Linked DNA regions of Homo sapiens. The protein of the gene in region 2 purifies or fractionates together with the protein of the main gene of each other region. This does not show direct contact. Each region holds a gene or a part of one and is shown on either strand. Other genes may lie near its edges. The genes, in order: ATXN2L, MCRIP2, ATXN2 and DDX6.

Evidence for each region.
Region 1: the proteins of MCRIP2 (region 2) and ATXN2L purify together in Homo sapiens (co-immunoprecipitation; 2 studies listed by BioGRID and IntAct, with this or other methods). This does not show direct contact.
Region 3: the proteins of MCRIP2 (region 2) and ATXN2 purify together in Homo sapiens (co-immunoprecipitation; 3 studies listed by BioGRID and IntAct, with this or other methods). This does not show direct contact.
Region 4: the proteins of MCRIP2 (region 2) and DDX6 purify together in Homo sapiens (co-immunoprecipitation; 5 studies listed by BioGRID and IntAct, with this or other methods). This does not show direct contact.

What each region holds. Positions count from the first base shown.
Region 1 is NC_000016.10:28,818,380-28,826,022, reverse strand, and holds the start of ATXN2L (ataxin-2-like protein), read right to left. Parts: upstream 3,025-7,643; 5' UTR 2,764-3,024; coding exon 2,465-2,763; intron 2,130-2,464; exon of another isoform or gene 1,981-2,129; intron 1,899-1,980; exon of another isoform or gene 1,600-1,898; coding exon of another isoform or gene 1,481-1,599; intron 658-1,480; coding exon 621-657; intron 400-620; coding exon 343-399; intron 254-342; coding exon 182-253; intron 1-181. UniProt on the Homo sapiens protein: Involved in the regulation of stress granule and P-body formation.
Region 2 is NC_000016.10:637,927-644,828, forward strand, and holds the start of MCRIP2 (MAPK regulated corepressor interacting protein 2), read left to right. Parts: upstream 1-3,901; 5' UTR 3,902-4,065; coding exon 4,066-4,117; intron 4,118-4,193; coding exon 4,194-4,323; intron 4,324-4,327; exon of another isoform or gene 4,328-4,419; intron 4,420-5,127; exon of another isoform or gene 5,128-5,218; intron 5,219-6,902.
Region 3 is NC_000012.12:111,451,707-111,456,338, reverse strand, and holds the end of ATXN2 (ataxin-2), read left to right. Parts: intron 1-82; coding exon 83-310; intron 311-1,219; coding exon of another isoform or gene 1,220-1,294; intron 1,295-2,493; coding exon 2,494-2,662; intron 2,663-3,498; coding exon 3,499-3,527; 3' UTR 3,528-4,125; downstream 4,126-4,632. UniProt on the Homo sapiens protein: Involved in EGFR trafficking, acting as negative regulator of endocytic EGFR internalization at the plasma membrane.
Region 4 is NC_000011.10:118,781,165-118,788,194, forward strand, and holds part of DDX6 (probable ATP-dependent RNA helicase DDX6), read right to left. Parts: intron 5,355-7,030; 5' UTR 5,088-5,354; coding exon 4,888-5,087; intron 21-4,887; coding exon 1-20.

The DNA.
Region 1 (7,643 bases), about 28 Mb from region 2:
TTTAACATTAAAGTACCCAGCCCTCAAATTTGTCTTTTTTCCCTGCAGCACTATTCAGCACAGGCCTACAGAAACAACTAAAGGCATACTCTGACATCACCCAATTGACACCTTCAATGAGCCTATTTCATTCTCCTCCTACTCTGCAACTCCAAAAATAATTAAATTTGAGTACACTGACCTTTGAGCTTAGCGTCTTGAAGATACCCTCATAAGTGGTACCATTTTTCACCTTTACATCACAAGTGGAGCCCTGGCAGAGTGGGAAAAATAAGAAGAGTGTCTCCAGAAAGTAGATGCATTACGTTCCTTAAACAACCCGGGGGTTAAGTACCAACTTACCACAACAGCTGTAAGGAAATGCAGCATTCTGGAATTGTTGTAGACGCCTTCAAACACCTGTCAGTTAACATAAGAGGGAGAATTAAAGGAGTAATCAGTCAACACCTCATTTTCTTTTCTAAATGCCCGCCGCACTCTACTCATTCTGCCTTGTGTGTGCCGGGCCCACAGCCCTCCTGAGTACATTAGACTCTATCTAGACCTAATGTGCCCTATATTCCCACATTATGCATCTTTTAGGTCTATGTATCTTAAACAGGGTGGGAGAAGACACTCACAGGTGACTGTGGGGGTCCCTTTCCTGTGCTCTGTCCCCTATAAAAGAAAACAAGAAATTACTTAAGTCTGTTCAAGCCCTCTTAGACCACTATGAAATTAATGTTAAATCCTAGAAGTATATACCACCTGATGATGCTGATTTAGACTACAAAATTGTTAATCAGTAAGATTTTTCTATTTTTTTTGAGACAGGGTCTCCCTCTGTTGCCCAGGCTGGGGTGCAGTGGCGTGATCTCAGTTCACTGTAGCCTCAACCTCCAAGGCTCAAGTGATCTTCCTGCCTCAGCCTCCCGAGTGGCTGAGACTATAGGTACGAACCACCACTCCTGGCTTTTTTTTTTTTTAATTTTTAGTAGAGATGGGATTTCCCATCTGTGTTGCCCAGGCTGGTATCGATCTCCTTGGGCTCAAGGGATCCTCCCACCTTTGCCTCCTAAAGTGCTGGCATTACAGGCGTGAGCCACTGCGCCCGGCCAATAAATAAGATTTTCAAACTGTCACCTTGTAGAGGAAGAAAAAAATAGACATTAATAAGCCAGCAAACACATTTCCTCCAAATGCCAGCAAAAAGATCTCAATCAACAATGGTTGTCAATTGCTCTAAGAACCAACGAGAAAGGGGCTAGGGCTGCAGGCTACCAACAGATCAATGCTACAGTATTAACCAAAAAGCCACGCCAGCTGTGAGGGCAAAAGCTCCAGGAGTGCAGCTTTGGAACTACCTAGCTCAGGTACATTACCTCCCAAACAGAAAAGACAATCATTTTCAGCAGCCTGACGCCTCAAAACTGTGGGAGGAGGGGTATCCCCTCCACACCCCATCCCCTCGACCTCATGACTCATTCAGCCCGTTACCCACTCTGCGGGGATCACCAATCGCCAGGTAACCCTGCTCGTCGCTGGCTGATGTAACCGGCGGTTGAGGGCGAAGAGGGGGCCGCTGGCGGGGCTGGGGGACAGCGCAGCCGCAAAAGCCATCCACCGGGAGGCCTCGCCCGGTCTGCGCCTGCGCACTAAAACCCACGGGACTTTCCGAACCCCCACCTCCAGCGATCAGAGCCCACTGCGCCTGCGTGTGCTGCCACTCTTAATTCCATTAACACACACACACTCGCACAGGAAAAACTGAGCAGGGCCTCCACTACTCATGCACTGCCACCAGACGAGCCCCTCCACGAACTAGTCCCTGCCCTAGGTGTTCCCGGGGCGCGCGAATGCCCGGGTCATGAGACCGAGCATCCACGCGCACGTACGGGAAGGGGGCGCGCGCGCCAGAGGCTCCCGGCCCGCAGTCCTCCCAGTCATCCCTCCTTCCGTCCCCCCGCCCACCTCGCTCCCCTCCTACTGGCCAGACCGGGAAGGGGGAGGCAGCAACCCGCTCCCAAGTCCCTCCCTCCCCATTGGCCAAACTGTGGGCCGCGCGCCCCCCTCCATTGGCTACGGCCGGGGACCCCTTCCCGCAGCAGACTCCCCATTGGCTGAAGCCGGGGACCGCGAGACCCTTCGTGGTAATGGAACCGGGGACCCCGATCAGCTCCTTGCCCCCCCCCAACTCCCCGTTCCGACGGCGCCGGCGGGATGCGCCCCGCCTCCCCTGAAGGCCGGGGCTGCGAGCCCTGACTAGGCCCCGAGAGCCGAGCGCGGCCCCTCAGTGCTCCGGTGGCCGCCCGGGGACCCTTTCCGTCCGACCTGTTCGGACCTGAGGGGGCCCTCCCCCAGCTTCACGGGGACTCCCCACCCAGCCGGTGCCCCTGACGGTGCCGGGTCGGGGTCCGCCCCACCGGAACCGAGCCACAGCCTCTGGGTGGCCGCGGCTCCCTCGCCCGGAGCCCACCCTTCTCACCTGGCGCTGCCGATGGCGGCTGCCCCCGGCCTCTCCTGGTGTTGCTGCGGCGGCGGCGGCTGCGGCGCCAAGATGCCTTCGGCTCCCCGGCGGAGCCCGCTCCCGGCAGCGGCCACAGGCCCCAGGCAGGGGGAGGCGGCCGCTGGAGGCCCGGGAGGAGCCGCAGAGGTGGCCAGCGGCCCCGGGAGGCCGCCGTTGGGAGGGCTGGTGCCCCCGGGGGGCCGACGGGCCACGGCCTGTTGCGTGGGGGGCGGCTGCTGGGGCTGGGAGGGCTGTTGTAGCGGCTGAGGCTTCAACATGATGGCAGCGTCCGGAAGGGGAATTAGAGAGAAGGGAGGGAGAGAGGGGGCCGGGGCTGGGGCCCCGCTGGAGAGCGCGGGAAGCGAGGGGGATCGGGCAGCCGGGGCCCGCCGTGGGCGGGCGGGGGGAGCCCCGCGGTGTCGGGGGTGGAGAGAGAAGACCGCGGCGCGAGGAAGCGCCGCGAGGCGGAAGGGGAGGGGGTCTCGCGGCTGGAGGAAAGCGAGAGGGCGCGAGCCGGGCTGGCGCGCGTGCGCGTCGCCGGGGAGCGGAGAGGGAGGAGCGCGCGGGTGGGAGCTCCCGGGGGGGGGGGGGGGGGGGGGGGGCCAGGAGCGAGCAGTGGCGCGAGGTGCCGCGCACACCGGCGCGGTTAGCTCCCGGCGGGAAAGTGGGAGAGAATCAAGTCGGTGAACCTCGCACCCCTAGCCCTGGGAGTGGGTAAGGAGCGGCGCGGGCGCTCACGCGCGCCAAGGATTTAGGGTCTTAAGGTCTCAAACCGCCTTAGAAGCCGGCGGCCGCTGTCGCTTCACAATGAGCGTGTGAGGCGCAGGGGGAGGAGCCGAAGGCGCCAGAGGAAGGGCCGGCCTCTCCGCCCACGCCGTCGCTGCGTCGCGATGCCTCCGCGGGAGTGTGAGGCGGCACGTCGTGCGTGAGGCTCTTCCGCCACTTGGCGGCCCGTGGGCAGAGCCTTAAGTGCCAAGAAAGTCTCCGGGACTGGACCACCCGAGCCACTGCGCTTTTAGGCAGGTGGTAGGTTTCGCAAGGAGCTACCCTCCACCTTGTTTGCTTTAAGTAAAAGACTGATGAGCATTAGTGATTCGTTTGAGCGTGTTGATCTTTGCAGATAAATTTACGCCTCGTCCTAAATTATTTCAGATTTTTGTGATTTTGACCTAAATTGTTCCTCCATGCCCGAGAATGAATCTTTAAACTGTAATAACAAAGACTGAAGGCCAAAGTTCCGAGTTCAAAATCCTCCACCCGACCCTGCAATGAAGGCAGCTTCATTCATTCAAAATGAGTTGGGCATTGGAGTATTCAGTTAGTTGTTTTGGACACAAGGATAATTAAACTGCTTCCTGCTCTGGAGGAGTTCATGCTAGTGGTGAATTCAGAGAATTTGACGAGATCTAGTAGGTGAAGCACAGAGGACTACAAGAGCAAATGGGAGTGACACCTAATCTTAATCCAGTTTTGGGAGACCCAGATAAGGGACAGGAGGGCCGGGCGCAGTGGCTCATACCTGTAATCCTAACATTTTGGGAGTCCGAGGCAGAAGGATCGTTTAAGGCCAGGAGTTTGAGACCAGCCTAGGCAACAAAGTGAGACTTTGTCTCTACAAAAAAAAAAAAATTTAAATTATAAAAAAAAACTGATAAGAGGGCAGGGGGAGATGGGTTTCTAGGCAGGGAAATAGGATATGACAAACTAAGAAAAACTCAGCTTGTCCTAAGCATAAAATTAAAGGGGGGAAGAGGTAGCTAATCTGGGATCAGGTTTTAAAGGCTCCCAAGTCTTGTAAGAGACACGGACATTATCCTCAAAGCAGTGGGGAGCTTATTTAAGAAAGTGAAAAGAGGCTGGGCATGGTCTGTAATCCCAGTACTTTGGGAGGTTTGAGGTCAGGAGTTTGAGATCAGCCTGGCCAACATGGTGAAACCCTGTCTCTACTAAAAATGCAAAAATTAGCTAGGCGTGGTGGTGCATGCCTGTAATCCCAGCTACTCAGGAGGCTGAGGCAGGAGAATCACTTGAACCAAGGAGGCGGAGGTTGCCGTGAGCCCAGATCGCACCACTGCACTCCAGCCTGGGTGACAGAGCAAGACTCCTTCCCCCCAAAACAAACAAAAAAACAAGTGAAAAGAGGTCAGATTTGCATTTTTAAAGGTTTACTCTTTGCAACGTGGAGAATGGAGTGGAGCTGTTAAGTCCATGTGGTCTTAATCCCAGCGAAACTCTCAATGTCTCAATCTCTTCGCTCTAAATGTTAGCATTGGAACTCTTCCCAGCCCCTGCACCAAACACATGCACACCTAGCTACAACACTGCCTTACTTTTTGGGTAATAGTCCTTCGCCCTGCCTCGCTCCTGCCTTCAGATGTGCTAGTTTCCCCTCCTGTGTGCTCGCCGAGCAATTTATCCCACTGTATTCTAACAGCTCCTTTAATTCTGTCTTCCTGCTAATGTCAGCTCCCTAAGGGTTAGGATCTTGACTTATTTCTTGCTCTGCAGTACTCTAGCACACTGCAGGCACTCAATGAAATATCTGTAAGGTGAGTGGATCCAAATGATGTTTTTTTGTTTGTTTTTGAGATGGAGTTTTGTTCTTATTGCCCAGGCTGGAGTGCAATGGCGCGATCTCGGCTCACCACAACCTCCGCCTCCCGGGTTCAAGCGTTTCTCCTGCCTCAGCCTCTTGAGTACCTGGGATTACAGTCATGCACCACCACACCCGGCTAATTTTGTATTTTTAGTGGAGACGGGGTTTCTCCATGTTGGTCAGGCTGATCTTGAACTCCCGACCTCAGGTGATCCACCCGCCTCGACCTCCGAAAGTGCTGGGATTACAGGCATGAGCCACCACGCCCAGCCCAAATGGTGTTTTAAAGGTCATCATGTCTCCTGGGTTCCCTAACAAACACAGTCCAGCTTTTTCCTGGCATTACCTGGACCACCTGATGCCATGCCACCTCTCTACCCTCATTGACAGATTGTGAGCACTGAGCACTCTAACCCCCTTCCATCTACCCCATCCTGCTCCACACTCAAATTCTGAGTTTTAGCCCCATGAAACTTCTTTCTCCATAGCTTGCCTTGCCCTTGCTAGTGGCAGCTAATTTGCATGGGGTCTACAGCAACCTCAATTCTTGCCTCCTCAGAAGAAAGAATTCCACCAAGGGGCATAAGGCAGAGGGAGAGACAGAGGCAAGTTTTAGAGCAGGAGTGAACGTTTATTAAAAAGTTTTAGAGCAGGAATGAAAGGAAGTAAAGTACACTTGGAAGAGGGCCAGGCGTGAATGACTTGACAGATTCAAGTCCCTGGTTTGACCTTTGACTTGGGGTTTCATATGCTGGCATGCTTCCAGGGATTTACGGTTTGCATCTCTTCTCCCCTGATTCCTACCTTGGCATGGGCTGTCCACATGCACGGTGGCCTGCCAGCACTTGGAGGGGCCACAAGCACAGTGTGTTCAGTATACTGAAGTGCACATGCTCACTTAAGACGTTCTTCCCTTACAGATCTAGCATTCCTGGAGGAAGGGCATGTACCATTAAACTCCGCCATTTTGCCTCTTGGTGCATAAGCTTGAGCCCATTTACCCAACTTCTGAGATCTTATCGAGAAGCTGCTGATCATCAGTTTCAAGTGTTTTCCATCTATTTGGAGACTGCCTTTCCCTGGTGCTGGCTGCAACCAATTACTATTTTAGAGACAAGTTTAACAACCACCTGACCATCACCTGATGGTTGCCTAACATTCCTGGTGGTGGGGTTGGGGCAGCACTCCTGCCCCAACAATGGGAATGTTGTCTTATCGTGTGCAATTTAAAAATTATATCACTATGGCCAGGCTCAGTGGCTCACGCCTGTAATCCCAGCACTTTGGGAGGCCGAGGTGGTTGGATCGTGAGGTCAGGAGTTCGAGACCAGCCTGGCCAATATGGTGAAACCCCGTCTCTACTAATAATACAAAAATTAGCTGGGTGTGGTGGCTCACGCCTGTAGTCCCAGCTACTCGGGAGCCTGAGGCAGAAGAATCGCTTGAACCCGGGAGGTGGAGGTTGCAGTGAGCCAAGATCATGCCACTGCACTCCAGCCTGGATGACAGAGCCAGACTCCATCTCATAAAAAAAAAAAAAAAAAAAAAAAGAAAAGAAAAAGAAAGCAAACTTCAAAAGACTGTGCTACCTTTTGTATACTGTGCTACCTTTTGTATAAGGAAGAAGGGGAAATATGAAGACATAAATGTATCTGCAGGTTTTTGCCAAGAAAAACAAAGTATAAACCAGAAACTCATCAAATTGATTACCTGTGATGGGGGGATGGGGGAAAATGAGGATTGCTTGAGCTCAGGAGGTCCTGGCTGCAGTGAGCCGTGATCTCGCCACTGCACTCCAGCCTGAGCGACAGAGCGAGACCCTATCTCAAAATAAAAACAAAACAGACAGTATGGGGAAAATTGATAAATTTGGAATATAGACTACAAAGTATTGCATCCATGATAAATTTCCTGAATGTGTTATGACTCTACTGGAGATATGGAAGGATGTATTCTTTTTTGTGGTTGTTGAGACAGGGTCTCGCTCTTGTCACCCAGGCTGGAGTGCAGCAGTGGGGTCTTGGCTCAATGCAGCCTCCACCTCCCAGGCTCAAGAGATCCTCCCACCTCAGTCTCCCAAGTAGTTGTGGCTGGAACTATAGGTGTGCACCACCACGCCCAGCTAATTTTTTGTTTCTTGGTTTTTTTTTCTTTTGGTAAAGATGGGGTTTTGCTGTGTTGCCCATGCTGGTCTTGAACTGCTGGCCTCAAGCTATCCACCTGCCTCTGCCTCCCAAAGTGTTGGGATCACAGATGTGAGCCACCATGTCCGGCCAGGGTGTTTTTTTGTTTTGTTTTGTTTTTTGTTTTTTGAGACAGAGTCTCCCTCCCTCTTGTCACCCAGGCTGCAGTGCAGTGGTGAGATCCCAGCTCACTGCAACCTCCGCCTCCTGGGTTCAAGTGATTCTCCTGCCTCAGCCTCCCGAGTAGCTGGGATTACAGGCGTGTGCCACCACGCCTGGCTAATTTTGTATTTTTAGTAGAGAGGGGGTTTCTCCATGTTAGTCAGGCTGGTCTTGAACTCCTGACCTCAGGTGATCCACCCTCCTTGGCCTCCCAAAG
Region 2 (6,902 bases):
CGAGGAGAGCCCCAGGAGGAGGGACCTATGATGACCAGTGGTTCTCCTGGGGCCCATGCACCTCTCCTCACCCAGATTTCACCTGGGCTTCCCTAGGCACAGGAAAGAGGAGCCCGAGATCAGTCTCTCTGCGCCTCCCTGCTTCCCCCCTTGAATGGAGCTGCGTTCAGGAGCTGCCTACAGTGCCCAGCGCATGGCAGGTTTAGTGTTGCCTGACTTCAGATATGGCCTATTGTTGGGGCTGGATGTTTGGGCCTCGTGGCTTGACCACCAATGGCTGAAGCAAACGCTAGCTCTGCTGAGCTCTGGGCCAGCCCAGCTTGTCCTTGCCGCCTGCAGTGGGCCCCAAAGGTGGGGGGCCGCCTTCGGGAGCCTGTGTGAGCTCGGGTTATGCCCTTCCCCACATGGGGCTTCCCTCCCCAGCACCGCCCTCACTCTAACTCAGCTGGTCCTTGCTGCCAGGTCTTCCACAGGAGCATATGCCCTCAGGCTGTGCACAGGCCCCCCAGCACCCCGTCCTGCCTCCCTGGCCTGTGTGAGTGATTGCGCTGAAGGCCACTGGGAGAAGCCAGGGCAGGACGCAGGCTGCACAGATGACGGGGATCACACTGGCCTTCCTTGAAGGACACGATGCCCGATGCTGGTGGGGGGAGGGCAGAGCCAGGTGGGGGGAGGGGAACTGGGGGAGTGGGGAAGGTGGGGGCAGGGGTGGGGGTGGGAGGTAGAAAAGAGTCCGTGAGGAGTCCTTCCTAGGGGGCGTCTCAGGCTTGGCCTCCCTGGCTGTGGCTTGCCATCTCCTTTGCCCTCTGAGGGCCACAGGCCTGGCCCAACCCTGCAGAGAAGGCAGCTGGGGATGGAAACCTCTTTCCTTCCGCTCTTCAGCCATGCTGAGGAGGGGTACAGGGCCAAGAGACACCTGGGTCAGAAGCTTCCCTGAGGGCCTCCCAGTAAGTCTGGAGCTCCCAGAAGGGAGGAGAAGCAGGGCCAGTGCATGGGGTGGGGGCTCCTCGGGCTGGCCCCCCACCACCAAGGGCCTCCCCTCACCCCTCCATGTGGTGCATGTTGCTTGCCTGGAAATTTAGACAGGAAGACTCTGGGCCCTGCCGCCCACCCGCCACAGCTCCGTTTTCAGCCACAGCATCCCTGACCTCTCCTTGGAGAATGTGGGGGCCACTGGACACGCCAGGCCCTGATGCCGGCACAGGCAGCCTCCTCTTGTTCCTGGACCAAACTGAGAGTCGGGCTGCTATTTCTCGTGGCCCAGTAACGAGATGCAGATGAACTGGTGAGGAAGAGGGTTTTTATTTCTGCAGCCGGTTACAAGGAGAAGGCCTGGAAATTATCACCAGAACAAGTCAAATTACAAAGTTTTCCAGAGGTTATGTACCTTCCAACCTAGATGTCTGTGTGTAAGTGTGCATTCATCTGAAGACATAAGTGGTTAACTTTTTTCTTTTTTCTTTTTTTTGAGACGGAGTCTTGCTCTGTTGCCCAGGCTGGAGTGCAGTGGCACGATCTTGGGCTCACTATTTTTAGTAGAGACGGGGTTTCCCCGTGTTAGCCAGGATGGTCTCGATTTCCTGACCTCGTGATCCGCCCGCCTCGGCCTCCCAAAGTGCTGGGATTACAGGCGTGAGCCACCGTGCCCGGCCAAGTGATTAACTTCTTTTAATCTATAATTAAGGCCTGAGTCCTGAAGACCTTCCCCTGGAGCCTCAGTAAACTGACTTAATCTTGTTTCCTGCTAAATCATGAAGGTTTGGGGAGTTCCTTCGGGCTCCCAATAAACTTGTCTGTGGAGGCCTGGAGAGTTTCTTCAGACCTCCAATAAACTTGTTTAATCCTAAACGGGTCCTATTAAGAATTCCTTCGTTATCTTGTCGCGCTTCAAGGCCCAGGAGAGGCCTGGGCACAGCTCTTGGTGGGCTTTTGTTACATTCCAGCCTTTGAAGAAGGGCACTGGCTTTTCTTCTTTAGAGTCCTGCTCTGTCGCCCAGGCTGGAGTGCAGTGATGTGATCTCAGCTCACTGCAACCTCCACCTCCTGGGTTCAAGTGATTCTCCTGTCTCAGCCTCCCGAGTAGCTGGGACTACAGGTGTGTGCCACCACACCCGGCATTTTTTTTTTTTTTTTTTTGAGACGGAGTCTCACTCTTTTGCCCAGGCTGGAGTGTAGTGGCACGATCTTGGCTCACTGCAACCTCTGTCTCCCAGGTTCAAGTGATTCTCCTGCCTCAGCCTCTGGAGTAGCTGGGATTATAGGCACCTGCCACCATGCCTGGCTAATTTTTTTTTTTTTTTTTTTTTTGTATTTTTAGTAGAGATGGGGTTTCACTAAATTGGCTGGGCTGGTCTCGAACTCCTGACCTTAGGTCATCCACCTGCCTGGGCCTCCCAAAGTGCTGGGATTACAGGTGTAAACCACCGATCCTGGACAGCTTTTTAAGCTTTTAATATTGAACTAACCACTCTGCACTGAAATAATTGTTATGGAGGCCTGCGTTAGTGAGACCTGGCCTGCCACACTCTCACATCTGTGGGGCGGGTACAGGAGCCCCAGGGGCCGAAGAGGCACACGTCGGGCCTCTGGGTGCACCTCAGCCTGGGGGCCAGGACGTGGGGCAGAGTGCAGCCAGGGTTCTGACTCCTGGGGTGGAAGGGAGACTCCCAGGGCATCATGTCTCTACCCAAGTCCAGGGGGATGAGCCGCTTTTTCTCTTCTTAGACCCAGTCCCAAGACCCAAGCCAAGGGTGACCCTTCACACTGGCCCAGGCCTCTGCAGGCACCTTGGCTGAGGCTCCCCAAGTATGAATGGTAAATCCTTGCCTCCAGCCTCGGCACAGAGGAGCCCAGCACAGACGCCCCCAGCACAGAGTCCCCCAGCACACAGCCCCCAACACAGAGCTCCCCTGCACACAGCCCCCCTGCACAGACACCCCCAGCACAGAGTCCCCCAGTACAGAGCCCCCAGCGCAGATACCCCCCATAGCACAGAGCCCCCAGAACAGAGACCCACAGCACAGAGTAGCCCCCCAGCACAGGGCCCCCCGGCACAGGGATCCCCAAGCACAGGGACCCCCCCAGCACAGGGATCCCCCCAGCACAGGGCCCCTCAGCACAGGGCCCCCCAGCACAGGGACCCCCCCAGCCCAGGGATCCCCCCAGCACAGGGCCCCCCAGCACAGGGCCCCCAGCACAGGGATCCCCCCAGCACAGGGCCCGCAGCACAGGGATCCAGCACAGGGACTCCTCCCCAGTACAGGGATCCCCCCAAGCACAGAGACCTCCAGCACAGGGATCCCCCCAGCACAGGGCCCCCCAATACAGGGATCCCCCCAGCACAGGGATGCCCCCAGCACAGGGCCCGCAGCACAGAGCCCCCCAGCACAGGCACAGGGACCCCCCCCCAGTACAGGGATCCCCCCAGCAGAGAGACCTCCAGCACAGGGATGCCCCCAGCACAGGGCCCCCCAGCACAGGGATCCCCCCAGCACAGGGATGCCCCCGGCACAGGGCCCGCAGCACAGAGCCCCCCAGCACAGGCACAGGGACCCCCCCACAGTACAGGGATCCCGCCAGCACAGAGACCTCCAGCACAGGGATGCCCCCAGCACAGGGACCCCCAGCACAGGTTCTCCTCCAGCGCTTGTCAAAGGTGGGCCCTGGGGCTCCGAGGACCCTGCTCGCACATCGCCGCTGACCCCGCAGGGCCCCTGGGTCCTCGCCGCCAGCAGTCTGAGTGCGGTGCCCCGACACTGACATGGCCTCCAGGCAGCAACGGCCTTCCCGGGCAGCAGGGCGCCTCGTCCGCCTTGGCCTCGGGCCTCCGGGGGCTGGGGCGGGGTTGCTGGCGGCTCCGCCCCCGCCTGCCAGTTTCCCAAAGGGCGCAAGCGCCGCCTCCGCCGCGTGTCCGGGGTCAGCCCGAGCCCGTGCGGGCCCTTTAAGGGCCGGGGGCGTGTAGCGGGCCCGCCCCCTCCCCGCGGCGCCCGCAGTCCGTTAAGTGCGAGCCCCGGCGCAGGGGCCGGATCTGGCCGGGGGCCGGCGGCGGTGTGGGAGCGGCGCGTCATGTACACCATCACCAAGGGGCCCAGCAAGCTGGTCGCGCAGCGCCGCACAGGTGCGCACGGGCCGGGGAACGGGAACGGGGACGGGGCGGGGCGCGGCGGCGGCTGACCGCCCCCCGGTGCCCGCAGGTCCCACGCAGCAGCAGGTGGAGGGCCGGCTCGGCGAGCTCCTGAAATGCCGGCAGCCCGCGCCGCCGACCTCGCAGCCCCCGCGGGCGCAGCCCTTTGCGCAGCCGCCGGGACCCTGGCCCCTGTCGAGGTGAGACGCGCGCGGCCCCGGCCCGGCCCGGCCCGGCTTCCCCTCCCCCGCCGGCCGCCCTAGAGCGGAGGGTGACCTTGGGGAAATGTTAGTGAGGTCCGGCCACGTGCTGCAGGCGGGGCGGGCGCTCCGGGCGCGGGGGGTGCGCGGGTCCTGCCCACTACGCGCCCGCGGGCCTGCGCCTCGCACTTCCGCCTCACCTGGCCGGGCCCGGGCCCCCAGCGGGGAGAAAGCCGGCCAGTTCCTGGGTCGCAGGGGCCTCCAGCGTCCGAGGTCGGTGCTTCGGGCGACCTTGGGTTGCTGCTGGAACCCTGACGTGCAGCAGGCCCAGGCCACGGTTCGCGGAGAGCGTCGGGCGCTGGTCCTCAAGATCTCCCGGCTCTGCCCTTGCAGAGCTCAGTGGGGGAGACGTGCGTGCGCTTCCCTCGGGCAGGGCCGCTGCCCTCCTCCGCCCTTCACCCCAGACACCCTGGGGCAGTGGGGCCTCCCCCCATCCGGTTGCTTCTGCTTTTCCTAACCCAGTTAGGAAACTCCGAGACCACAGGAGCCTCAGTCCGGCCACTGTGGCCTCCCCGTGACCATGACCCAGAGGTTGGACAGCCCCGCAGGGCTGGACGTTTGACTTTGGCTCAGTTCCTCCACCGTTCCCTTCATTTATCCTGTGCCTCTCCCAGGCCTGTGGATTTTGCTGTGGCCCCAAGCCGGCCCGAAGGCTCCTGGAGGTGGTAGGGTCATGGCCTGAGGCGGTGCTGGGGAGGAGAGCTCGGGCCAGGAGTTCAGGGCAGCTACAGGTGGGGGGGTGCCGAGCCACCCTCAGCCTGCCCCCTGCCTACCTCTCAGAAAGGTGTGGAGGTTCCAGCGGGGCGGGGGCTCTCTGGGGCTCCATCCTAGTGAGGTAAGTGCCCTCTACCAGAGGCGCCTTCTGGCGGGAGGTGAGTGGGCCCCTAGGTGCTTCCAGCATCCCAGCTCTGCTGGGACGCTCCGCGGACATCACCCTTGGTCCTCGTGGCCGCTCTACTTCCCAGGGGAGGAAACCGAGGCACACCTGTAGCCACCACCTGGTCCCCAGGCAGGGAGCATGAGGCTGGAGTGGCCCAGGGTGACGCCGTCTCTCTTAACCTGGGGAAACCACCTTTCTTCTCTCTCCAAGACCCCACTGCTAGGGAGGGCAGGGGTAAGGCTGTGGCACAGTTAGGAGGAGTTAGGGAAGAAGATGGAAATGCTTCCCAGAGTTCTCCATGGGACCCCAAGGGTCCCAGTGGGCAACACCAGGCCCACTGGCTGTTGTCTCTTTTTTTTTTTTTTTTTTTTTGGAGACAGAGTCTCCATCTGTCGCCCAGGCTGGAGTGCAGTGGCGCAATCTCAGCTCACTGCAACCTCTGCCTCCCGGGTTCAAGCGATTCTCCTGCCTCAGTCTCTTCAGTAGCTGGGACTACAGGTGCGTGCCACCATGCCCGGCTAATTTTATATTTTTGTATTTCACCATGTTGGCCAGGATGGGCTCGATCTCCTGACCTCATGATCCACCCGCCTCAGCCCCCCAAAGTGCTGGGATTACAAGTGTGAGCTACCGCGCCCGGCCTGTTTTCTTAAAGTCCCCATGTGAGGTCCTCTGTCAGCCAGTGGGACCTGTGGGAGTTGAGTGGGCTTCACCCCGTGTGCAGTGGGGCTAGAGGAGCCCTGGGCAGGGCAGGATGTGTGCTGCCCTCTCCTCCCTGGGGTCACCCACCTTCCCACCCCCAGGCCCCAGCGCTGGGAGCTTCTGGCAGCAGTGGGATCTCTGCATGAAGCCCCCATCCTGCTCCTGCACCTTCTTGGGGCAACCACCTTCCCTCTGTTTCTTTTTTTTTGAAATGGAGTTTTGCTCTGTTGCCCAGGCTGGAGTGCAATGGCAGGATCTCCGCTCACCGCAACCTCTGCCTCCTGGGTTCAAGCGATCCTCCTGCCTCAGCCTCCCGAATAGCTGGGATTACAGGCGTGCACTGCCACACCCAGCTAATCTTGTATTTTTAGTAGAGTCAGGGTTTCTCCATGTTGGTCAGGCTGGTCTCAAACTCCCTACCTCCGGTGATGCGCCCACCTCGGCCTCCCAGAGTGCTGGGATTACAGGCGTGAACCACCGTGCTTGGCCAACCACCTTCCCTCTGAACCACCCCACCCCATGCTGCCACCCACCTCGCTGTTTTTTACTTCATTTAATTTTTTTCTTTTTGAGACAAGGTCTTGCTCTGTCACCCAGGCCGGGGTGCAGTGGTGCAATCATGGCTCACTGCAGCCTCAACCTCCCAGGTTCAAGTGATCCTCCCACCTCTCGACTTCCTGAGTAGCTGGGATGACAGGCGAGCACCACACCTGGCTCATTTTTAACTTTTATGTAGACAGGTCTCACTATGTGGCCCAGGGTAGTATTCAATTCCTGGGCTCGAGCAATTCTCCCGCCTTGGCCTGTGGAAGCGTTGGGGTTATAGGTGTGGGCCACCGCGCCCGGCCCTGCCCTGCCTTTTCTTCTCCTTGGTGCTTTTTGCTACTCCTCATCTCTCACTGACTGGGCGCGGGAGGGGGGTGTCGGGGTCCCTGCA
Region 3 (4,632 bases), on a different chromosome or scaffold from region 2:
GCAAAGCTTAGCTTTGTGGGTATCCCTTGGCTGCTTTTCATTAAAGAAGTTTTCCTCTCAATTCTTTCCTGTCGCTTTGCAGCACCATCAGCACCAGGCCGCCCAGGCTCTCCATCTGGCCAGTCCACAGCAGCAGTCAGCCATTTACCACGCGGGGCTTGCGCCAACTCCACCCTCCATGACACCTGCCTCCAACACGCAGTCGCCACAGAATAGTTTCCCAGCAGCACAACAGACTGTCTTTACGATCCATCCTTCTCACGTTCAGCCGGCGTATACCAACCCACCCCACATGGCCCACGTACCTCAGGTAATACCAGCTTTAGCCAACTTTCTGTGAAGGCCAAGTAGAATGTGAAGGTTATCAGTAAGCAGCTAGAGGCTCTCCCAGCTAGGAAACCCTGTGTGTCATGCCATTTGCCTGTCTCCCTTTCCCTCTCAAATACACGTGATCTGGCCCTAAGGGAATGTTTGTGTGGTTTTGTCATGGGATCAGTGAAGGTGCTGATTGGTCAGTCCTTTAGTTTTCCAACTGAGACCTTAAAAATATCTTTGACTCTGGAATGCAACCCAGTCCTTCTTTCCTTTCTGTGTCTGCTTTGCTATGTCTATATAGCCTCACTACTATATATATGTGTACATATATATTCCCCTACACACTTACCTTGGAAGCCAGGCAGGGATGATGGCCTTCACAGAGTCTCAGCTCTCCGAAGTGACTACCGGGGCCTGTCAACTTGATTGTTACTCACATGAGTTCCAGACACATCTCTCCAATTGTTTTCCCTGGTTATCCATATATCTGCTTTGACCATAAGTTGTACTCTTGAGAGGGCTTGGCCTTGGACATTGGTGCAGTGTAACTAGAAGCTGGAAGCACCCAGGTGGTCCCATTTTTCTTTAAGAGCAGCCCTGGAAGCACTTTGGAGCTCACCTCCAGTGTAAGCTGCTACAGGTGAAAGGTGTGCTTGCCATCTCAGTGGTTGCTGTCTGCATCAGCTGCTGACAAAGGTCCCTGCACTCCAGGGCCCAGGGGATTGTCTTAATGAGGAGAAGGAGCTGCACTGAAGTTGGGCTCTAACGCTGGCCTTGAGGCCCTCCCTGGGGCTGTTACGGGTGAATTGGCTGTATTAGATGTCTCTGCTACTTTCATAACAGAACTCTCTGAGGCGGGTCTAAGTGAGACCTGCCACAATGAATTCCATTTCCTGTTAAATAGTGCGCCAGTGAGGCTCTGGCAAGGTGTGGGCTAGAGATGCGACTCAGTTGGATCTATCTCTCAGAAGGCTACCTTGTAAGTAGAGTTCCACAGCTCTGGGAAGTTTGGGCGTCCTCACCCTGCAAAGTTTAGGTTCTGTGGTGTAGCGCACTGCAGTTGATTTGCTTTTTGATAGTGGGGAGGGAAGCCGGTTTGGTCCGTGTGGGCCAGCGTGGTTTGGTGGAGTCAGCTTCATAAGAGCTGGGGTCCTGTAGGTGTCTACCAGAGGCTGGTGGCTAAGTAGGCATGTGAACTTACATGTAAGTCAGGGATCCCTAAAACCTCACTCTGTTTTTGTGCTGAAAGGGCAAAAAGGTTAACACAGGGAAGCTCAAATTTGCCATGTGCCCGTTTGAATATGTGAGAGTAAAAACGGCATTTCATCCAAGGCTTATCGTAGTCTAGAACAGTGCACAGTGTGGGAAAAAGGAAACAAGGGCTCTTCCTGGCCCTGCCAACCCCCTGCAGAGCTGGAATCCAGCTGTTTGGGCTGACTAAAATCACCTTTCCAACTTGACAGTGAGTGAGACCAGGTTGAACTTGGTACAGAGACGCTGGGCTGGCCCAGATGACTTCAGGTTACTCCTTTCCATCTCACTGGAGCCATTAAAAACTCCAACTCCTCCTCCTCCTCCTGCTCCATCAGCATATCTCTGAGAGAGTCACGGGGGCCTAAGAGTCTCTTTTCACTGCCTGGTGAGCAGACCAGAAGCAGAGGGAGAGAGGCAAATGAACAGAGGTCCAAGTAATTCACATACTTGACTGTGACAGTCTCTGCTTATTAATGTAATCTGTTTTCCTATTTGAAAGGGATGTTATCTGCAAAACTACCTCAGGCCCCACATGGCAGCCTGATTCTGAAGCATCATTGAATCTTGTATGATATTAAGTTGAGAAAGCTGCCCTTGGATCCAGTGTCTAATCTTTGTGAAGATCTTACCCCATACATAGAATACAATGATCAGAAATGTCAAGGGTTAGGACAGCACAGCCCTGACTTCTACCCAGGCTCACTTGTTGCCTGCTCCCTGACCCTTGCAGGATCTGCCCAAAGGTGAAGCGCGTCTTCAGGTCAATAGATAATCTACTAGAGATTGTCCCCAGAGAACAGAACTGGGCCCTGAGGCCCACCGTTGCCCTTTCCTGAGAGTCCCAGCCCAGTGAAAGGAACACAGTTGACATGTTGTTGAAGCCGGAGATGTTGCCTGTATGCGTAAAAGAGCTCTCTGTTTCAGGCTCATGTACAGTCAGGAATGGTTCCTTCTCATCCAACTGCCCATGCGCCAATGATGCTAATGACGACACAGCCACCCGGCGGTCCCCAGGCCGCCCTCGCTCAAAGTGCACTACAGCCCATTCCAGTCTCGACAACAGCGCATTTCCCCTATATGACGCACCCTTCAGGTGAGGCGTGTGTGTGCAGGGGCCGCCGGGGCACCCCAAAGCATTCTGCTCGCACAGGTGGAATGGCAGGCAGGGCCAGTGCTTCAAGCCCCGCATTTGAGAACTAGCAAGACCCGTCCAGGAGTGTGCACAGGAGGGACTGTGACGATCAGTTCAGCATCAGGGCCTGAGGCTTCCGGGAGCCGAGTCTGTGTGTGTTCTGATGGTATACAGGATTTGGCTTGATGAGAAGCAGCAGCAGCAGCAACAGCAGCCTGATGCATGCCTAGGACTCAGTTGGCCTTCCTTGTTATGACAGGCTGGACAGGGCAGTGTTTTCCTTCCTGAGTCCCAAAAGTCTGACATGTGGGGGGTTATTACCATGGCAGAGTTTGATTGTAGCTCTGGAGAAGATACTGCTGAGAAAGCGCTGTGGATGGACTGGCTTTGAGTGTAGCGTTAGCCCCAGCCCCTGAACAGGGGAGAGCGCCCTGTGATTGTGCTCTACTACTTGATGGCTGCCATGGCGATACTTCACAGTCTGACCTGTTATTCTGAAAGCAATACTGGTGCTTGGCTAATATTTGGGGAGGGGGTTTGTTAAGGCCTTTTTTTCTACCCCATGAACAAGTCTTCTGGGAGTTTTATCTGAAGTGGTTTTACGTCTGACTGGTTTGTTTCTACCCACCCACCCAACCCTCCCCACTTTGGTGCAGATGGGAGGGGGAAAAGCGAATTCAATTTTGAGTTTTGTTCAGCTAGCACGAGGATAGTTTACAATCATGTGCTGCAGAGACACTAGGCTGATGTGTGGTGTTGCCAGTTTTCTGTTTCAATGTTCGCTTTTCTTTTTACAGTACAAGCCCACCACCAACAGCAGTTGTAAGGCTGCCCTGGAGGAACCGAAAGGCCAAATTCCCTCCTCCCTTCTACTGCTTCTACCAACTGGAAGCACAGAAAACTAGAATTTCATTTATTTTGTTTTTAAAATATATATGTTGATTTCTTGTAACATCCAATAGGAATGCTAACAGTTCACTTGCAGTGGAAGATACTTGGACCGAGTAGAGGCATTTAGGAACTTGGGGGCTATTCCATAATTCCATATGCTGTTTCAGAGTCCCGCAGGTACCCCAGCTCTGCTTGCCGAAACTGGAAGTTATTTATTTTTTAATAACCCTTGAAAGTCATGAACACATCAGCTAGCAAAAGAAGTAACAAGAGTGATTCTTGCTGCTATTACTGCTAAAAAAAAAAAAAAAAAAAAATCAAGACTTGGAACGCCCTTTTACTAAACTTGACAAAGTTTCAGTAAATTCTTACCGTCAAACTGACGGATTATTATTTATAAATCAAGTTTGATGAGGTGATCACTGTCTACAGTGGTTCAACTTTTAAGTTAAGGGAAAAACTTTTACTTTGTAGATAATATAAAATAAAAACTTAAAAAAAATTTAAAAAATAAAAAAAGTTTTAAAAACTGATCAAGTTAGTGTGTGTCTGTATAAGCTACTTCTTTGTAGGATACTTAATATCAAAGCAGGTGTGCTAAGGGTGCATTTTGAATATCCCGGAAGGTAGCTGTGAAATGATTTTTCTTCTTCACCCTTAGTTCTGGTTCAAGGTATCTCTAGAAAAAGACAAGACTGAGCTATTCTCTTTGGTGGATTAGAGATCTGCTTCAGGAGGAGGAAGGTTGGCCAGAGTTGGGCAGCACTGAAATTCCACATCCTCGGGCTGACACCGATTCTGTAAGCTTCCTTTTTAATATCTCCTGAACCAAAATGAGTGTCATTAGCTGGAAGTTCCCAATTCGGGCATTTTTCTACTTTACCAGTAGGGGGCAGGAGACACTCAGAAAAAAATTGCAATAAAGAAATCCAGAGGGCATGAAGGCTGAAAAGATACAAAGATGTACAAAGCTGCTTATTGACATGGATGGACTCATAAGCATTTGTTAGTATTCCCAGATTGCAACGGGGAGGACAAAG
Region 4 (7,030 bases), on a different chromosome or scaffold from region 2:
TTTTCCAGTCATCACCAGGTCTAGAGAGAATACAGTAAACTTGAAGTATCAAAATTCATAGCATCCTAACAAAGATGATTCATCTCAATTATAATTAAGTGTTAAAAAAGCACAGTAAGTTTAATATATTCCATTTAATATATCTAACAAGATAATTAAACAACTTTAGAAAAAGTGTTCTTATAGAGAATCTCAGGAGGATAAAAAAATCAAGAACAGAAGGGATTAAGGCATCCATCCTCTTAAGCAATATTGTATACAGTGTAACTGTTGTCAAAAGGTGTTTTGTTTGACCTACACAGCATGTGTTTTAATTTAAATGAGTTTAAATTAGTTCTCAACATTTAAAAACTGTAAGATTTTATATATCTTATATAACTCCTGGGCTCAAGAAATCCACCTGCCTCGGCCTCCCAAAGTGATAGGATTATAGGTGTGAGCCACCATGGCCGGCTATTCTCATTTTTAAAATAGGTTAACAGGCCAGGCGTGGTGGCTCCCATCAGTAATCCCAGCACTTTGGGAGGCCAAGGTGGGCGGATCACTTGAGGTCAGGAGTTCGAGACCAGCCTGGCCAATATGGTGAAACCCCACCTCTACTGAAAATACAAAAATTAGCCAGGCATGGTGGGACACAACTGTAGTCCCAGCTACTCGGGAGGCTGAGGCAGGGGAATCACTTGAACCTGGGAGGCGGACACTGCAGTGAGCCAAGCTCACGACACTGCACTCCAGCCTGAGTGACAGAGGGAGACTCTGTCTCAAAAATAAATAAGGTGGGCGCACACCTGTAATCCCAACACTTTGGGAGGCCAAGGCAAGCGGATCACCTGAGGTCAGGAGTTCGAGAGTAGCCTGGCCAATACGGTGAAACCCACTCTCTACCAAAAATACAAAAATTAGCCAGCCATGGTGGCATGTGCCTGTAATCCCAGCTACTCAAGAGGCTGAGGCAGGAGAATTGCTTGAACCCGGGAGCCAAGATCCTGCGCCAGAGCAAGGCTCCGTTCCAAATAAATAAATAAAACAAAATAGGTTAACAGTTACATCAAACAATTGATATAATGCACTCAGCACAGTGCCTGGCAAAATAATAGCACAGTATTAGCCAATGAGCATCTCTTAATCTTTCTTTTTTATTGGAAATGCTAGAAATCATGAAAGAGAATAAAAACAAGGAGAATATAAATAAACTCTCTTTTTGGCCAGGTAAAAACCTCAAGTAATAAATACTCAAAGCATCTTTAAAAAAAAAAAAAAGATCAGGGAACATCTGCAGACAAAGTATTTAACTGTGACATCTTCGAAAAAGTTTTCACTGCAGCTGTTCTTACATAACCAGAGTCCCCAAAACATCTCAAATGCTCCATTCACAGACAAAAAGACCACTTATTTTACTTAAAACTAGGTCCTACATAATGCATACTCTAACATTGGTAACTTTTTGCTACCAATTCCAAGACTACTACTGTACTAAAGCCTTTTTTTTTTTTTTCTGAGATGGAGTCTTGCTATGTCACCCAGGCTAGAGTGCAGTGGCATGATCTCGGCTTACTGCAACCTCCACCTCCCGGGGTTCAAGCAATTCTCCTGCCTCAGCCTCCAGAGCAGCTGGGATTACAGGAGCTTGCCACTACACCTGGCTAGTTTTTGTATTTTTAGTAGAGACGGGGATTCAGCTGGTCTCAAACTCCTGACCTCGTGATCCTCCTGCCTTGGCCTCCCAAAGTGCTGGGATTACAGGCGTGAGCCACCTCACCCGGCCTACTAAAGCCTTTCATCTAAGCCTGTATCATCGAAGTTTCTGATGTCAGTTTGACATACCGTTGAATTCAACAAAATAGTGAATAATAATGCGTAAGATACAATGCAAAACCTGACCACAAGAAATTTATAATCTTATGAGATGAAAAAACTATTTAAAATGAGAAAGTAAGTGACGGAGGTTAAGTATTAGAAGTGTTCTGAGACACTTGATGGGATCTAGAGGACTTCATGGAAGAGAGGGCAGAGAAAATGAGATTTGAAGAACCGCAGAACTGAAAAGAAACCATTAATCGTAGGAAAACCAGAAAAGAAAAATCAAAATCCACTGTTGTCCCCAAATCAGAATTTATTTTTTATTTCTTTGAGATGGGGTCTTACCCTGTCACCCAGGCTTGAGTGCAGTGGTGCGATCATAGCTCACTGCAGCCTTTATTATTTGTAGAGACAGGGTCTTGCTATGTTGCCCAGGTTAGTCTCAAACTCCTGGCCTCAAGTGATCTTCCCACCTCAGCCTCCCAAAGTGATGGGATGAACGGCATGAGCCATCATATCCAGCCCCAGAATTTTTTAAATAGAAAATATTCTCATAGGCCAGGTGCAGTGGCTCACGCCTGTAATCCCAGCACTCTGGGAGGCCGAGGCAGGCAGATCACCTGAGGTCAGGAATTCAAGCCTAGCCTGCAAACATGATGAAATCTCATCTCTACTAAAAATACAAAAATTAGCCAGACGTGATGGTGGACACCTGTAATCCCAGCTACTTGGGAGGCAGAGGCAGGAGAATGGCTTGAACTGAACCCAGGAGGTGCAGGTTGCAGTGAGTCGAGATCACACCATTGCACTCTAGCCTGGGCAACAGAGTGAGTGAGAGTCCATCTCAAAAAAAAAAAAAATTAAAAATAGGCTGGGCGCAGTGGCTCACATGTGTAATCCCAGCACTGTGAGAGGTCGAGGTGGGCAGATCACTTGAGCTCAGGAGTTCCAGACCAGCCTGGGCAACATGACAAAACGCCGTCGCTACTGGTGCATGCCAGTAGTCCCCACTATTTGTAGGGCTGAGGCAGGAGGATCACTTGAGCCTGGGAAGTTGAGGCTGCAGTGAGCCATGATCGTGCCACCATACTCCAGCCTAGGCAACAAAGTGAGACCCTGTCTCAAAAAAAAAAAAAAAAGTTATAAAAAAAATTAAAAATAGTCTAAATTTTGCTAACCTACTTACATTCTGCCAAGACAAACTACAACTGAAGTAGTATTCATTTCTATACCAATTAAAGCATTCACCTTAAAAATAACAGAATATACACTAATACCAATTCTCCCAATGACCTAACCAATTCTGCTGAAAATTAGTTCTTAGAGGTCCTAGTGAACCACATACGGTAACTATATGACAGTCTGGTAGCTTGTATAAGCTATTTTTCTGTAGGAAGTGAAAAGATCTAGGTTGTAATAAAACATATACCTCAGTTCAGTAACCCAGTGTCAACATCTTATAAAGATTCCCAGGGTTAAATTATTTTATATGGCAAGTTTTTTTTTTTTTTTGAGATGGAGTATTTCTCTGTTGCCCAGGCTGGAGTGCAGTGACACGATCTTGGCTCTCTGCAACCTCCACCTCTCGGGTTCAAGTGATTCTCCCGCCTCAGCCTCCTGAGTAGCTGGGATTACAGGCGCATGCCATCACACCCAGCTGATTTTTGTATTTTTAGTAAAGACAGGGTTTCACCATGTTGGTCAGGCTGGCCTCAAACTTTTGACCTCGTGATCTACCTGCCTCAGCCTCCCAAAGTGCTGGGATTAAAGGCGTGAGCTACCGCACCTGGCCTTTTTTTTTTTTGAGATGGAGTTTCGCTCTTGTTGCCCAAGCTGGAGTGCAATGGTGCAATCTCGGCTCACTGCAACTCCGCCTCCCGGGTTTAAGTGATTCTCCTGCCTCAGCCTCCCAAGTAGCATTATGGGCATGTGCCACCACGCCCAGCTAATTTTGTACTTTTAGTAGAGACGGGGTTTATTTTTAGTAGAGACAAGGTTTCTCCATGTTTGTCAGGCTGGTCTCGAACTCCCGACCTCAGGTGATCCGCCCACCTTGGCCTCCCAATGTGCTTGGACTACAGGCGTGTGCCACTGCACCCGGACCTATATGGCAAGTTCTTAACAAAAGCCAAACATCAACTGGAGTCAAGAATCTTAAATGTTAATTTCCTATAACTGAATCTTTAAAGTGATGGTTACCATTCAAATATTGTAATTTAAACTATGCACTTAAAAGTAACAAATAGCCTACATACTTTCAGCTTTAAAAGAAAAAATATCCTCTAGTAAGAGGAGGCTCTTCAATTTTAAGGTTAACAAAAGGTTTCTGAGACTGTTCAGAACTGTGTTCTGTGAGTTCAAAATTCTTAGTTCCCTTTTTATATGTAAAAGGAGGAAAAAAATTAAAAATTTTTTTTTTGGGTAGAGACAGAGTCTCATTATGTTGCCTAGGCTGGTCTCAAACTCCTGGACTCAAGTGATCCTCCCACATTGGCCTCCCCAAAGTACAGGGATTACAGGCATGAGTCACCTCAACCAGCCAACTTTTTTTTTTTTTTAAAGTAAAAAAGCTAAGTTCCATAAGCTAAAAAAAGTTACGAGAAAATTTTCTGAGTGAATAATGCTTGGAGTTCAGAAGGCTGGGCAAGTCTTTAAAGACTCTAAAGACTCAGACTGAGTCTTTAAATTTAATACATAAAGTTGGCTTTATCTGCTGTTTAACTAGGGTAAGGTGCAGTCGTAAAAAAACTATACTGACAAAAACGAGATGACTAATAATTTTATTCATTTACAACAAACTAAGCTAATAACTTTTACACTAATTATGAAAGCCAGAAATGTTTCCAAAAACCATTTATACAAAATTTGTGTGTATCATCTGACCTCAGGATGACTACTTGCTGAACAAATTATGGCAGAAATATATTATTCTATTGCAAATACCTACTGGCCATAAAACAAAGTCATCTGTCCTCTATTTGGAATCAAAATGGTTAAATTAAGGCATAAGTATTAATAGTCAACACCAAAGTAACACAAATCTTGGTTCCCCACAAGTGTTTATTAATAATTTACTCTAACACTTACTTAATAGTGGTGGTCATACTCTGTGCTTGCTGCTGAGTGCCATTATTGATTGTGTTGGTGTTTTTCAGCTGGTTCATCTGTTGCTGTGTCTGTGTGCCCCCTCCTCCAGGGCCACCAGTGGGTTTCACAGGGCCTCTCAGCTGACCATTTTGACTGGACAGACCCATTATAACAGGGTTCTCTGTTCTGGCCGTGCTCATGCTGTTTTAATTGCAAAGGTCTTTCAAACTTCAAAACTTTTGAAAGTCAGTAGAGAAACTGTAATAACAGTTTATTAGGCTCTCCAAAATGAAGAGATAAATATAAGTCTTGCTCAATAAATGAGTCCTTTATTGCAATGCAGGCAAGCACCTGTAAGTCTCTGAACGGTAAGCAGCAGTAACTTGCTCTCTTGCACGGAATCAACTTTTTATTTTTAAAAAGCCCTCTAACAAGCTTGAGTTATATCTGAATTCACTCACGTCAATCTGAAACAAACAAACAAAATTAAATTAGCAAACACAACAGAAAAACTTTGTTTCCCTTTTAAAAGAACCCCTTTAAAAGAATTCTCATCTTTTATATTAAAGAATTAATAATACAGCTACACTTAGACCAAATCACGAGCCAAGCTAGGATAGACACAACTTTGAACTATCTCAAAAACACAATGAGGCCAATATCAAACATTTAAAATTGTTAATTCAAAGCAATCCAGAGATTAAGTAGAAAGAGACTAGTAAATTAGCACTACTCGTCAATGATAATCTCTTCTCTTCAGTTTCCTCCCCATGAATTCTCTAAGTCTCTGACATCTCTAAAAGTCAGTGATTCATTATACTTAATTGCATTACAACTCACTGAAGTATCACACAATTTAAACAAGACAATTCATTAATTTTCTTCTACTTGTAATAGCAACCGAGAGTCCTTATAGATTTAAGTGAGCTTTTGACTTGAACTTCACACTTCCAGAAAAAAACACCTTTGTGCCCTTACAAATTTCAACTATTAAACTTTATGGGCTGGGTGCTGGTGGCTCAGGCCTGTAATCGCAGCACTTTGAGAGGCCAATGCGGGCGATCTCTTGAGGTCAGGAGTTAGAGACCAGCCTGGACAACATAGCGAAACCCCATCTCTACTAAAAATACAAAATTTAGGCCGGGTGCAGTGGCTCATGCCTGTAATCCCAGCACTTTAGGAGGCCGAGGAAGGTGGATCATGAGGTCAGGAGTTCAGGATCAGCCTGGCCAAGATGGTGAAACCCTGTCTCTACTAAAAATACAAAAATTAGCCAGGCGTGGTGGCGAGCGCCTGTAATTCCAGCTACTTGGGAGGCTGAGGCAGAGAACTGCTTGAACCCAGGAGGCGGAGGTTGCAGTGAGCCAAGATTGTGCCACTGCACTCCAGCCTCAGCGACAGAGCCAGACTCCGTCTCAAAAACAAAAACAAACAAGAAAAAAAAAACAAAAAACAAAATTTAGCCGGGCATGGTGGTGCACACCTGTAATGGAGTCCCAGCTACTTGGGAGGCTGAAGCACGAGAATCGCTTGAACCTGGCAGACGGAGGCTGCAGTGAGCCAGGTGACAGAGACCTTGTCTCAAAAAACAACAAAAAACTTTAAGAAGAAAAATGTATTTTCTTTTTTCCTTTTTGTCCTTTAAAACAATAAATGAAGCAGTCAAGAGAATAGTGTATTTCTGCCATAATGCATCCAGCAAGTAATGATCCCAAGGACGGATGATATACACAAATTTTGTATAAATGAATTTTTATTTTGAAATTGACAAAACCAAGATGACTCTAATAATTTTATTCATTTATAACAAACTTAGCTAATAACTATTCTAATTTTAAATTTAAAAAAACAGGAAAATTCCTGTTTAAAAAAAAATCCGCGGAAGACTAAACACACTAGTAATTTTAAGAAAACTTTCCAAGAAATCCAGAGTAGTAAAGCTAATTAATAGTTTAAAAAAAAAAAAAAGAACTGGTAGGAGGGGCACGGTAGCTCACGCCTGTAATCCCAACACTTTGGGAGGCCAAGACTGGTGGATCACCTGAGGTCAGGAGTTCAAGACCACCTGACCAACACGGTGAAACTCCGTTCCACTAAAATACAAAAATTAACTGGGCGTGGTGGCCCTGTAATCTCAGCTACT